Homo sapiens: one gene and its partners. The protein of the gene in region 4 purifies or fractionates together with the protein of the main gene of each other region. This does not show direct contact. Each region holds a gene or a part of one and is shown on either strand. Other genes may lie near its edges.

Region 1 (3,500 bases), on a different chromosome or scaffold from region 4:
CCCCAAAGAATAGAGAATTGCTAGGGTATATAATTGGGGGAAGGCAGCGAGGGATGAGGATAGTAAGGGTGGCAGTGTCTGTTCTATGGAGAGCACCCTTTATAGCTCTGTCAAAACATGAGCATCTTATTCTGTAGGGGATGGAAGGTGTCCCTGATGGACTTAAGGCAGGAAAGCATTTCAGAAAGACCTCCCTGACCATGGGGAGGTTGATTGGAGGAACAAGAAGGCTTAGTCGGCGTGCAAGTCAGAGAAGGGGCGAGAGATGAGGGTATGACTTTGCAAAAGGTTTGAGAAGTAGAGCTTGAGATTGGCTGAGTGTTGAGGAGGTGAAAGGGGCGCTGGGGTGACTTGAAGGTGGTTCCTGGCTTACCTGACTGTGTGCTAATTGTTTTACGAAAAGAGACTGGGAACCCACGAGAAGGAAGCATTGGTGGTGGCAGTGGCTAAGGAGAGAGAAGTGATGAGTCTGATTTGGGACATGTGTAGTTTGAGGCACCCATGAGTCATCCAGGTGTAGGTATTAGGTGGACAGTTGGAAATACTGGCTTGGGAAAAGAGTTGGGCTGGACATAGAGATATGAGAATCCCCTTTGTTTTGATAGATTAGAGTCCTCCTAGCTCACTTATTTGCCTTGTATTAATGTCTGTTAATACCTCCATCTCTTCTCCCCTGAATAACATAACGTTTGAAATATTTTATAGCTTTATACTTTTTTATAGCTTCAACTGTGTCCTCAAACAGCTAGATCCCCCATACACAGTTGCTAAAAGCCAGAAGAAACTTTCTCAAACCTTGCCAAAAATTCCTACATTGATCTGTTAGGTACACCAAAGTTATAGTCTTCTCTTCCTTCCTTCATTCATTTAACACATATTTATTGAGCATTAGGTGCTGTTGTTCAGTGTACTGGGAATGGGGCTGTGGACAGACCAGACAAGGTTCCCAGACTCAAGGAGCCTGTTAGGAGACAGACAATAAATGAACAAACAGGTAGGCATGTGATGCCAGAAATTGATAACATACTACCAACGAGGTAAAACAGAAATGTGGTAGAGTGGACGGTGGGGCTGCTTTAGCTGGGGTGTGCTGAGAAGCTTCTTTAAAAAGGAAACCTTTGAGCAGAGATTTGAAGGAATTAAGGGGGTTAGCTAGGTAGGTATTTTGGAGGAGAATATTCCTGCAGATGCAGAGGAAACAGTGACTGAAAGCCCAAGTCAGCAGTGTATTTAGCATATTTGAAGAAGAGTGGAAGGCCATAGGACCAAAGTACATAATCCTGGGGAAGAGTGGTAACAGAAGGAGTTGGGTCGGGGACAGTCATGTAGGCCTCACAGCACAGGGTAAGGACTTTGGATCTCAGCCTGTGAGTGACGGGGGCTATTGAAGGTTTGAGCCCCTTTAGAGGATCCTTCCCAGTGTGGTGTGGAGAACAGACTGGGAAGTGGGAGGGGACAAAGTAAGAACAGGGAGACAGGAAGCTACTATATCACCCAGATGTGACACATGAGAGTGGCTTGCACCAGGATGATAGTGGTAGAAGAGACAAAAAGTGGGTCTGACTCATGTATATATGAATAAATGTAGTGTAGAAATGAATTGCTAATGTAGGGTATAAGAGGAGAAAAGAAGTCAAGGACAATGCCACGGTTTTAGACCTGAGCAACTTCTAGCATGAAGATACTATTTACTGAAATGAGGAAGATGGGGAAGGTCCAAGTCTTTGTTAGATGCTAGAATACGGCCTTCCTCCCCCTAACCCCTCCCACTCCATGCACCCTACTGTCTGTGCCCATCTCTATCTTTCTGACACGGCTGTTGCCCTGCTGAAAAACCTGTGTACCAGTTGGTCCCTTTGGACACCAGAGGTCTGCTGTGAGGATGACATTAGATTATACAAATAAAGCCCATAGTGGGGACTCATACACAGACAGAGCTCAGGAGATGATGTCGGGCAAATAAATGAATGGAGTAAAAGGAATTTAGATGAGGGAAACTTTCTGTAGGTAATGTGTATTGAGGAAGACCATTTGGTAGGTAGGACTTGAGTTGGTGGTAATAATGATAGCTAATGTTTATTGAGTGGTTACTTTGTGACAGGTGAGGGAGATGCAGTTATTTTTCCATTTCACAGATGAGGCCCAGAGAGAGTAATTAATTTGCCCAAAGTCATCGAGCTAAAGAGTGAAGGAGCTGGCTGGAGCTCAGGGCTGCAGTGGAAGGTTGGGTAGGTGTTTCTTTTTGGGAAAAATGGCACAGAGCAGGACATGTGCAAGGATAGTCAGGGACCAAGTAAATCAAGTGACTGGTACACAAGGTTTATTCTGGGAGGTAGAAAGTTAAAAGCAGTGACTCACCTGGATGGATCCCTGTGAATGGGAGCCAGTGAGGTTTTTTGAGCAGGGGCAACAGCCGTGTCAGAAAGAGAGATGGGGTCGGGCGCAGTGGCCCTCGCCTGTATTCCTAGCACTTTGGGAGGCCAAGGCGAGCGGATCACTTGAGGTCAGGAGTTCGAGACCAGCGTGGCAAACATGGTGAAACCCCAAAAATTAGCTGGGCATGGTGGTGCGTGCCTGTTATCCCAGTTACTCGGGAGGCTGAGGCAGGAGAATCGCTTGAACCTGGGAGGTGGAAGTTGCAGTGAGCTGAGATCTCATCATTGCACTCCAGCCTGGGGGACAAAAGTGAAACTCCGTCTCAAAAAAAAAAAAAAAGGAAGCTAGAGGTGGCCACAGAGAGTAGGGTGCATAGAGTTGGGGGCAGGGCTAGGAGGAGGAAGCCCATGTTCTAGCATGTAAGAAGGACTTAGACTTAAAGGAATGAAGGTCTGGCCTTAGGTGGTAGTGATGGGGATGAAAGCAATAGTTAGAGGATGTTGCAAAAATATAAATACCCCATGCTATTTAAATCTGTTTAGGAGCTGGGTGCAGTGGCTCACGCCTGTAAGGCCAGCACTTTGGGAGGCTGAGGCAGGCAGATCACCTGAGGTCAGGAGTTCAAGACCAGCCTAGCCAACATGGTGAAACACCATCTCTACTAAAAATACAAAAATTACCCTGGCGTGATGGCACGTGCCTGTAATCCCAGCTACCCAGGAGACTGAGTCAGCAGGAGAATTGCTTGAAACCGGGAGGTGGAGGTTGCAGTGAGCTGAGATCACGCTATTGCACTCCAGCCTGGGCAACAAAGCGAGATTCCATCTCAAAAATAAATAAATAAATAATCTGTTTCGGTAATGAGAGTTTGGAGAGTGAGGAATATCATGTTATCTGAGTCTGTAGTATTTCGTTTCCTGAGTTTTAGTTAGAGAGTAGCAATAGTTTGGATAATGAGGAATACCTGCCTGCTTGCTATGGAAAAATGTATCTACATGTGTTTGGTTTCTGAGTCTGAGAGTGGAGGGACACCTGTAAGTAAACAATCTGAGGTAACACAGAGATGCAAAGGAACAGGGTGAGTTAGAACCTGGGAGACAGAAGCCAGGGGCAGAGGCGGAGGA
Region 2 (3,500 bases), on a different chromosome or scaffold from region 4:
GCCATATTCTAGTTGCACTGTACCATAATCAAGTTGGTCTGTATTTGGTTCTGACTTGCAAATGAGCTGCAATGAACCGGTCTTGGACCGAGAGCTTCGGGTGTTCTCTGTATCACGATGGCGAGAAACAGATGTCCTACTACTACGCCAGCCCCGGCTAGGTCTAGATGCAGCAATGGAAACTTCCTGAGGGAGGGCAGAATCGTCTTCTTCCTCTTTTTCTTCCTTGGGATCTAAATAAAAAGACATACCATTCTCTTTAAGTTTACAGTTAACCAATAACCATCCCTGTATATCTACTAATTGTAAATACAGTTGAAGATAAATTAAATATTTTCAAAGGAAAAAAAACTGAAGACTTTAATTGAAATAATAAAAAAAGGAAAATGAGATAAAACTTATCCTTAATGTCATCATGCTAAAGAAATTACTTCATGTTGCAAAGTAGTAATTTTATACTGCCTTATCTTCTAAAAAATGCAATGCTAACTATGCAAAATACACTTAAGTAACTGGATTCATGAAATTCTACCTTTTAGATCTAAGTTAAAAGAAACTAAATTAATTAGTCCCAAAAAGATGACCAGAACTACAGAGGCACCAAAAAGAAAGAACCATAGATCTAGATGTTATTTACAACCAAACAAGTCTATAACAAATTACTAAAGAGGAATTCCTAACAGGAGTACTTTTCACTCTAATCAAGAGTTTTTCTTGGAACCACACCATAAATTTGAACTAATCTATAGAGCAATTGAATGGTAAAGTCCAGCTCTGGTGCTATTCTGTTTCAGTTGTCCTATAAGACATTGTGTACAGGAGCACACACAAATCTGTTATTGTTATCCTATATTTTGTCATGTTTTAAGGGTGAAGTACGGTAGGTCATCCTCTCTTGAGTAGTAAGTAATAAAAAGTTAATCTCAGAAACTGGCTTTCATACCTGGCGTAGCTAAATACTTAGACCTATATAAAAAAAAAGTACATTAGAATTGAGCCCATTTTAACAATAGAAGATTCTTTAATAAACTCAGAACGGGAAAGGCCCAATAATAAAACAAAATTTCAGGTCATAAGATACACATAAAAACAATTTTCCTCATGGCAAAAATCAACCATAAACAAAGTCTAATAACCCAATAGAAAAATAGGAACTAACAGGCCGGGCTCAGTGGCTCACACCTGTAATCCCAGCACTTTGAGTGGCCAAGGCGGGCAGATCAAAAGGTCAGGCGTTTGTGACCAGCCTGGCCAACGTGGTGAAACCCCGTCTCTACCAAAAATACAAAAGGTAGCCAGGCGTCGTGGTGCCTAACTGCAATCCCAGCTACTGGGGAGGCTGAGGCAGGAGAATCACTTGAACCCGGGAGGTGGAGGTTGCAGTGAGCTGAGACTGCGCCACTGCACTCCAGCCTCGGCGAAAGAGCAAGACTCCATTCCAAAAAAAGAAAAAACAAAAAACAAAAGCTCAAAGCTCAATCCACTCAGAACAAGAGACTCAAATGAAAACGATAGCATGACACCATTTTTCATGTATCATATTGGGGATGATCATATTTGACAACATAATGTATTGTCAAGACTGTGGGAAAACAGGTCCTCTAACACACATATGATAATGTATTAGCAAAACCTCCATGCAGACCAATTTGACAATATACATCAAAATTATAAATGTATATACCTTTCCACATGATGTTCAACTACTAGAAATTTATCCTACAAAATTACAATCATATTTATAAATGATTAACATATAGCACTGTTTTTAAGTAGTAGAAGAGTAGAAAACAACATTCAAAGAGGGATTGGTTTCACAAATAATTGTGTACATATGTAAGAGAGAGATATATATGTAAGATATATATACACACAAATATATAACTTATGAAACCAATCCCCCTTTGAATGTTTAGTTGTCTACTCTTCTACTACTTAAAAACAGTGCTACACATTAGTCATTACAGTATGTGTGTGTGTGTGTATATATATATATCTTACATACTATAATAACATTTCTGGAAGAAGTACAAGAAATTCTTAAGTACTGGTTACTTCCAAGGTAGGTCCAAAAATATGTGTAGTAATTTCACCTTTAAGTATATGCCCTAGAAATATAAACTACCACATGGAGGTTAACTGTATTATGTTTATAATAGCAAAGAACAGAAACAACCTAACCCTCTGTCAAAGATAAAGTGCTTAAATAAACCATGATACCTTAGTATGATTGAATACTATATAGAGGTAGGTTTATGTTAAAAATGACATGGAATTATCAGCAAAAATATTGTTAAATGTATAAAAAAGACACAAAACTATATATACAGTATGGCAACATTTTTGCTTAACATTAAAAAATAGTTTACTATGGAGCAATGTGGTGACTATAGGCTATTTTAGCTTTAATTACACTGAAAGTTTTATGACAATATACTGAAGTAATGAAATTAGTTTGAAACACAGAGATAAATAGCAGTGCGAACAGTTCTAAACAACCATCAAAATCAGTTGTGCATTTCCTTTCAGCTGTCTTTTTCCATTCATTATTGCATCACCCTCCTATCTGAGCTATTTTAATAGAAAAAATAAAAAATAAAACATTAATATAGGTGAAAATACCTCAAAGGCCATTCAGTCTAAGCACAATCCATTACGTTTTACCCATAAAGTATCTGGAAGCCCAAAAAAGAAGCTTATTCAAAATCACAAGGTTAGCTAAGGACACCTAGATTTAGAAATCATATTTTGAGATTAATAATGAAGGACTTTTACATATAGGTCATGACTACTTTTAAAACAATTTCATCAAAAAGAACAATTCAACACCACCTATGAAGTATTACAACATTTAATAATAGACACATCTTTTTTTTCCTTAACCCAACTGTACCGAGTTGGACTTTGAACTCACTCCATAACCTCCTGTCCTCAACAAAGCTCCTTTCTTCTTCATGATGAAAGGATGGTATGCCCACAACCTCCTATACTGTAGATTTTACTCACTGGATAAATGATGCCAATTTGATAACAATAGTTTACCATTATGAATAAGGCATAATAGCCTATCTTATTGAATACTACTGCTCCCGTCCCCTAAAAATCTAGTCTTAAAAAAAAACCACTCTGTCAGAGATGACAGCAAAAATGTCCCTCCACAGAAATAAACACATATCATGAACAAACACTGTCAGAATCAACTTTGTGGAAACTCTTAACAATAGTTAAAGGTTATAAAAGCCAAGTGAGCACTGAATCAAGAAAAAGGTGAGTAAAGATGTTTAAGGAAATCTGTCAAATCACTTGATGAATATAAGCGAAAGGACCAGAACCTTTAGAGACCACAGAGACCAAAGTAGGAGCTAAACATTAGGTACTCATGGACATAAAGATGGCAACAACAGAAACTGGAGATTATTGGGGGGAGGTTGAAAAACTATTGGGTACTATGCTCAGTACCTGCATGATGGGATCATTTGTATCCTAAATTTCATATCATA
Region 3 (3,500 bases), on a different chromosome or scaffold from region 4:
CATTAAAAGGGATATATATCTATATGCCCTCAATGTTTCTTCCTCCTATAGGGGGATAGCCACTCTGACCCACGGCATACACATCTAACAGACTGGGTCAAACTCAGCAAAGAATGTAACTGGCTAGTATGAGAAATAAACATCTAATCTGACATCATCACTGTGTCCCAATCAACTGAACTGCCCAGTATGCTGTATATACAACAATACAAATCGTAAGGTAGTTTTAAAATGTCATCTCTTTTTAAACACCTACCTCATATATTGCAGTAAGATCTCTAAAAAAGCTTTTTGCTCCATTTAACAAGGCTTCATTTTCTGGACACAGTACAACATAGGCTATATCTCTTTGAGATCCATAGGGTTCCAGCATAAGTCTCTCCCAATAAGGAAGAGCAAATGGAGAAAGCACCAGATAATCATAATCATAACCCAACAAAAATGTGGGGATTGGCAGTGGTTCTGGGGATTCATCAGTTCCTAAATAAGAAAGATGTATTTTAAGAAAACACTTAAAAACAAGACATGTCTCCTTTTTATTTATTTATTTATTTATTTATTTTTTGAGACAGAGTCTCGCTCTGTCGCCCAGACTGGAGTGCAGTGGCGCCATCTCGGCTCACTGCAAGCTCCGCCTCCCGCGTTCACGCCATTTTCCTGCCTCAGCCTCCTGAGTAGCTGGGACTGCAAGTGCCTGCCACCACGCCTGGCTAATTTTTTGTATTTTTTAGTAGAGACGAGGTTTCACCGTGTTAGCCAGGATGGTCTCGAGCTCCTGACCTTGTGTCCGCCCACCTCGGCCTCCCAAAGTGCTGGGATTACAGGTGTGAGCCACCATGCCCGGCCTCCTTTTTATTTAAATGTCAAAAGTTAATGAAGTCATTATTAGTGAAAATATTTTATTAGAGACAAAAATACTTAATGCCAGTGGTCAAGACTTTTCAACATTAAGGAATTTCCTAAACAAGTCTTTTTATTTACTTATTTTTTTGAGACAGGGTCTTGCTCTATTGCCCAGATTAGACTGCAGTGGAACAATCACGCCTTACTGCAGCATTAACCTGCTGGGCTCAAGCAATCCTCTGTCCTCAGCTTCCCGAATAGCTGGGACTACAGGTGTGTGCCACTATGCTTAGCTAATTTTTAAAGTTTTTGTAGAGATGGGATCTTGCTGTGTTGCCCAGGGTGGACTCAAACTCCTGAGCTCAAGTGATCCTCCTTCCTCAGCCTCCCAAAGTGCTGGGATTACGTGCAGGAGCCACCACGTCTGGTCTGCATTTAAATTTTTGGCATGGGGCTGGGTGCAGTGGCTCACACCTGTAATTTCAGCACTTTGGGAGGCCGAGGTGGGCAGATCACCTGAGGCTGGGAGTTTAAGACCAGCCTGACCAACATGGAGAAAGCCTGTCTCTATTAAAAATACAAAATTAGCCGGGCATGGTGGTGCATGCCTGTAATCCCAGCTACTCAGGAGGCTGAAGCAGAATTGCTTGAACCCAGGGGGTGGAGGTTGCGGTGAGCTGAGATTGCACCAGTGCACGTCAGCCCAGGCAAAAAGAGCAAAACTCCATCTCAAAAACAAACAAACAAAAAATTGGCATAAAAATACACTGTAGGCCAGGTGCTGTGGCTCATGCCTGTAATCTCAGCACCTTGGGAGACTGAGGTGGGAGGATTACTTGAGCCCAGGAGTTTGAGGCCTAGGCAACATAGTGAGACACCATCCTTATTTATACATTTAAAAATAATATAATTTAAAAAATAGAAAAAAGAAAAAACCTTACTAAGAGCGCAGATCTCATGTTAAGTGTTCTTTCTTTTAGTTTTTTTTTGTTTTGTTTTTGAGACAGTCTTGCTCTGTTGCCTAGGCTGCAGTGCAGTGGTGCGATCTCCACTCACTCCAACCTCCACCTCCTGGGTTCAAGCAATTATCTCACCTCAGCCTCCTGAGTAGCTGGGATTATAGGCACACATCACCATACCGGGATAATTTTTGAATTTTTGGTAGAGATGGGGTTTCACCATGTTGGCCAGGCTGGTTTCAAACTCCTGACCTCAAGTGATCTGCCCACCTCGGCCTCCCAAAGTGCTGGGATTACAGGCGTGAGTCGTCATGCCTGGTGAGTGTTCTTACCATAATAAAAAAATTTTTAAAAGAAAATGACCAACAACCTAATAGAAAAATGGGTTAAGAACATGGAGATTACAAAACAAAACTATCTCTAACACATAAAAAGATGCTCTTTCTCATTAAAAAAGCAATTTAAAATTAATAATAGCAAACAATGATAATTCTATGTGCTAGGTACTGTTCAAAGCTCTTTGCATGTACTAACTCATTTAATCCTCACAAAAAACATAAGGCAGAAACTATTATTAACTTCATTTTAGAGATGAGAAAACATAAATGAGGAAGTTAAGCAATTTCTCTAGCATTTCACAAGAAGTAGCAGAGTAGGAATTTAAACCCAAGAAATCTATCCCCACAGTCTGTACTATTTAATCTCTCAAACTATAATGGGAAATAACCATTTTTCATCCACTGAATCAGCATCCTACTAGGCAAGGCTTTGGGAAAACAGGCACTTTAACTGGTGGGAATTCAAACTGATATTACAGGGGCTGGGCATGGTGGCTCACGCCTGTAATCTCAGCACTTTGGGAGGCCTAGGTAGGTGGATCACTTGAGGCAAGCAGTTCAAGAACAGACTGGGCAAGATGGCAAAATCCCATCTCTAGTAAAAATACAAAAATTAGCCAGGTGTGGTTAATGCATGCCTGTAATCCCAGCTACTCGTGAGGCTGATGCATGAGAACTGCTTGAACCTGGGAGGCAGAGGGTGCAGTGAGCTAAGATCATGCCACTGCACTCCAGTCTGGGCAAGAGAGTGAGACTGTCTCAAAAAAAAAAAAAAAAAAAAAAAAGGCATTACAGATAGTTATTTAGGTTTTTTTTTTTTTTTTCTTGAAATACACGTCTGGGTGCTTATAATCCTAGCCCTTTGGGAGGGTGAGTTGGGCAGATCACTAGGGCCCAGGAGTTGGAGACCAGCCTGGGCAACATGGCAAAACCTCATCTCTACAAAATATACAAAAATTAGCTGGGTGTGGTGGTGAGCACCTGTAGTACCAGCTACTTGGCAGGCTGAGGTGAGAGGATCACTTGGACCCAGGAGGTTATGGCTGCAGTGAGCCATGATTGTGCCACTGTACTCCAGCCAGGGTGACAGAACAAATCTCAAAAATAATAATAATAAATAAAATAAAAATACACCCATGCTTTAAAGCCAGGGATCTGTGCATTACTGAAAAGTAGCTGTAATGATAATGGTGGTAACAATTTGTATGTTCATAAACACTGCACTGGTAAAATATATTATCATATGTAAGGAACAATGGAATACATATAGCCATAAAAAAAGATAATCTCTATATGTGCAGATAGAAATGATCTCCAAAATCAGTTAAGGTACAGAAATAAATAAATAAATATCTACTTT
Region 4 (3,500 bases):
TTGATAATTTAAAACTTTAAAACTCAGACAAATCTAACTTCAAAAGATTTTGAAGTTATATTTTCAAATTTTCACAATTTATCTAAACAAAGTAATTTAAAAACTTGCAAACATTTAAAAAATTTACTCGAAGCTTAAATCTTAGTTCATATTATTTAGCTCATTATATAAACTTTACAACAGTGAGGTAAAAATACAAGAAGTGTCTAATTCTCTCTCAACATCTCAATTCCTCCTCCCTATCTCAATGATCTTCTTGCATTGATGAACACAATTTTTAGAAAAATGCTTTAATACAATTAAAAATAACTTTGTTAGTTCCACTAGTGTATGTTCTATTTTTTTATTTTACCAACTTTTTTCAACCACCTATGCTAAACTTTGTCTCTTGGTGAGTTAGTTGTGAACTTAATCCTAAAATTACAGAATACACTTAACGTTTACAATCACTAGCTAACCATACATTTCACTGAATCTACAATACTAAGTTTCAAAATGTAACCATATGCTTTATGGGTATGAATTTGCAGCAAATAAAATATAAGAAGTTATGAGATGTTTCTAGTCATTCTAGTGATTTTCCATGTTATTAAATTCTATAATAATCTCCCCATATCCTCACTAAGTCACTTCTAATGTAACCAATTTTAGTAACTTTGTCATATAAACATACATCTAAACATAAATGCACATAATAGGATTTTCAACTTTTCAAGTTGATCCAACTCATTTTCCTACTTTGAGTAAAAACTTTACATCACATAGCAAGTGATTCACCTATACATTTCTATTCTATATTATCTGTGATCATAACCAGCAAATTATATATTTTAGAGATGAGGGATACTGACTCCAATCACAAGAGAGCTATTATAATGATTAATTCAATTATATTCAATTATATCCCAGGGTTGTACCTCCATCAGAACCATGCTTTATGATTTGATGCTATTTATACTCAAAATTGAGATGAAAATGTAATGTGAAGAGATGAATTTGAAACAGTAAGTGCCTCGAGCAGAGAAGGCTTCATCGAGAAAATAATGTATAAATTGGGACTTGAATTTTGAGTAAGAAAGATGAGATAAAAGAAAAAGGTCTATCAGGAAATGGTATGAGTGGGTACAAAGAAGGGCAGAGAATGGAAAGGCATGAGTCAGCTTGTCTAGTAAATGGGGGCTGAAGGGTAAAGAACAGAAGCATGGAGAGTGAGGTTTCACATAGCTGAGGCTGGCTCTGAGTTGATGCGGACTTAGCATTCCTATTCTAGGACTAGGGAGTACCAGTGGGATTCTAGTCAATCCTACATTAAATACAGTTTTAGGTAGTGTTATTGTTTCATATATTTGTTCTCAACTGCCCTAGAAAATAGGGATTCACTAATAATTATTTGAATCCCTCTCTGAACTAAGAAGTCATTTCAATTTTTGTAATCTTATTTTTTTAACATCTAAGAAAAGGATGTGATGGTTATTCTTCAACATCTATACACACTGCATCTAAACAATCTTTTATTTCATTTAGGTTTATGTGAACCAAATCTGCCTTAATGGTACTGCTAAGGGGACCACATTAAAAAAATATATATATCTCTATCTTACAGGCCTTTTCCTTCTGAAATCTACTTCCTCTATAGAAGAATGGAGAATGGAGTCAATTTGCCCATTAGTGGGTGCCCTTTCAAAAGAAAATAGTTGTTTCCCACGAAATCTGAAAAGAAATAAAGCAGTATCACAGACAACAGAGGTAGCACTCACCTTCCAGACTCTCAGTTCTCTCGGATTTATTTGTTTCTTCAAATCCCTGCACAGATCCCAGATCTTTATCCATTCTCTCTTTATCCAAGGCTAGAGAGTCTCGGGAAGTGCTTTCTAGATCCCTTTCATGTTCACCTTCCAGTTTTGCTTCACAGCGTTTCACAGACTCTATTTGAGAACTCTCAAAAGTTCTGTCTCTGTCTCTGTCCCTGTCCCTTTCAACAGAATCAGAAATTAGTCTCTCTCTTTCCCTATCCAAGTCTCTCCTTTTGTCTCGTTCTCTCTCTCGTTCTCGTTCTCGCAATCTATCTCGATCCCTGTTGCGTGGCCAATCTTTATCAGCATCTCGGTCCCATTCTCTCTGCCTCGTATCTCTCCTCTCTCTCTCGCGCTCTCTGTCGTGTTCATATCGATCTCGTTCTTGAAGCCTGTCTCTGCTATCAAATGACCCAGATCTTGAATGGACCTGTCGATCTGACTCTGGAGAACTTCTTCTTGAACTATGGCTTCTTGAATCCTGGCGATCTAAAATAAATATACCATATATAAAGAGTTATTAGCACATGATAAAATAGAAACAAAATGCTTCATTTCAAGGTCCTTTAAAACATAATTTACCTTTTTCCATATTCTATGTAACTTTCTATGTTCCATATTGTCTCTATATGTTCTATATATTTCTATATTCTACATATACATTTCTCTCTATAAATATCCAAATATATAAATCATTTTAAGAAAAATTCCTCTCTCAAAGTTCTAATAAATAAAAAAAAAAGTTTCCTTGTCTATTTCCACTATAACCATAAAATATCTTCCAAGAAGTACATAAAATGATTAGGCATTAATAGAACTAATCACTCCATTATTTGATCTCCTCCTACTCCCCTATCTTATTTTCTGTGGTCAAAAGAGGCAGCCTTGACTGCATGAAGAATAGCAGGAAGGTTAAAATCATAGGCATCAATAAGGGACTTGAACACATAAACCCTTCCACCAAGACATACTACTAAAATCCTGATATTAAACTGATTAACACTACTGTATGTATTTCTATTATAATGTTGGTATTAATGTGATAACAGGTAACATTTTGATAGGGCAGCTAAACTTTTCTTTAAAAAGTTGCATAAAATTTAAGGCAGCATGTAAAGTAACCAATTTAGCATTACTTTAGAATTAAAATGTGTATAAAATATACTAACCTAGGAAACAGTGACTAGATCACAATTCAATTTTATTACCTGAAGAAGTACTTCGACTGGGTTCTCCACGCTTTAACTGATCAATCCTAGATTTTCTCTCTCCTGTGATTTCCAGGCTTTTTGTTTTTTCTCTATCTCTTGAGCCACTGTGCAGTACTCTCTTTCGACCACTTTGGTCATCTCCACTTCGATGGGCTGAATCATTGGATGGGGAGCGAAGACGACCAGACGTATGACTACGGTTACTCCGATTGCTCCCGAGGCTGCTGCTCCTCTTTTGATCCATAGGCTTGCGATGCTGTGCATCTTCTATAGTCACGTGAGGCGTCTCTACTTTTTCTACTCGTGTTCTGTGGCATTTTCTGTGTGAGTCTTCATTGGCAAAAGTATTATTGGTGGTATTGGTGGGGGTGGCAGAGGTGGAAATAGTGATGGCAGATGTGCTGAAAGAGGTGGCGGCAGCAGCAGTAGTGGCAGCAAGAGTTGCAGGCACAGTTGTAGCAGTGGCAGTAGCCACAGGCGGTGGAGGAGGAAGAAG

What was found.
Region 1: the proteins of ZC3H13 (region 4) and NUP93 fractionate together in Homo sapiens (co-fractionation; one large-scale study listed by BioGRID). This does not show direct contact.
Region 2: the proteins of ZC3H13 (region 4) and ZFP91 fractionate together in Homo sapiens (co-fractionation; one large-scale study listed by BioGRID). This does not show direct contact.
Region 3: the proteins of ZC3H13 (region 4) and MED13 purify together in Homo sapiens (affinity purification with mass spectrometry, with the first as the bait; one study listed by BioGRID). This does not show direct contact.

The regions. Positions count from the first base shown.
Region 1 is NC_000016.10:56,733,129-56,736,628, forward strand, and holds part of NUP93 (nuclear pore complex protein Nup93), read left to right. Parts: intron 1-3,500. UniProt on the Homo sapiens protein: Plays a role in the nuclear pore complex (NPC) assembly and/or maintenance. May anchor nucleoporins, but not NUP153 and TPR, to the NPC. During renal development, regulates podocyte migration and proliferation through SMAD4 signaling.
Region 2 is NC_000011.10:58,606,563-58,610,062, reverse strand, and holds part of ZFP91 (E3 ubiquitin-protein ligase ZFP91), read right to left. Parts: intron 234-3,500; coding exon 24-233; intron 1-23. UniProt on the Homo sapiens protein: Atypical E3 ubiquitin-protein ligase that mediates 'Lys-63'-linked ubiquitination of MAP3K14/NIK, leading to stabilize and activate MAP3K14/NIK. It thereby acts as an activator of the non-canonical NF-kappa-B2/NFKB2 pathway.
Region 3 is NC_000017.11:61,967,779-61,971,278, forward strand, and holds part of MED13 (mediator of RNA polymerase II transcription subunit 13), read right to left. Parts: intron 481-3,500; coding exon 257-480; intron 1-256. UniProt on the Homo sapiens protein: Component of the Mediator complex, a coactivator involved in the regulated transcription of nearly all RNA polymerase II-dependent genes.
Region 4 is NC_000013.11:45,965,747-45,969,246, forward strand, and holds part of ZC3H13 (zinc finger CCCH domain-containing protein 13), read right to left. Parts: coding exon 3,002-3,500; intron 2,283-3,001; coding exon 1,758-2,282; intron 1-1,757. UniProt on the Homo sapiens protein: Associated component of the WMM complex, a complex that mediates N6-methyladenosine (m6A) methylation of RNAs, a modification that plays a role in the efficiency of mRNA splicing and RNA processing.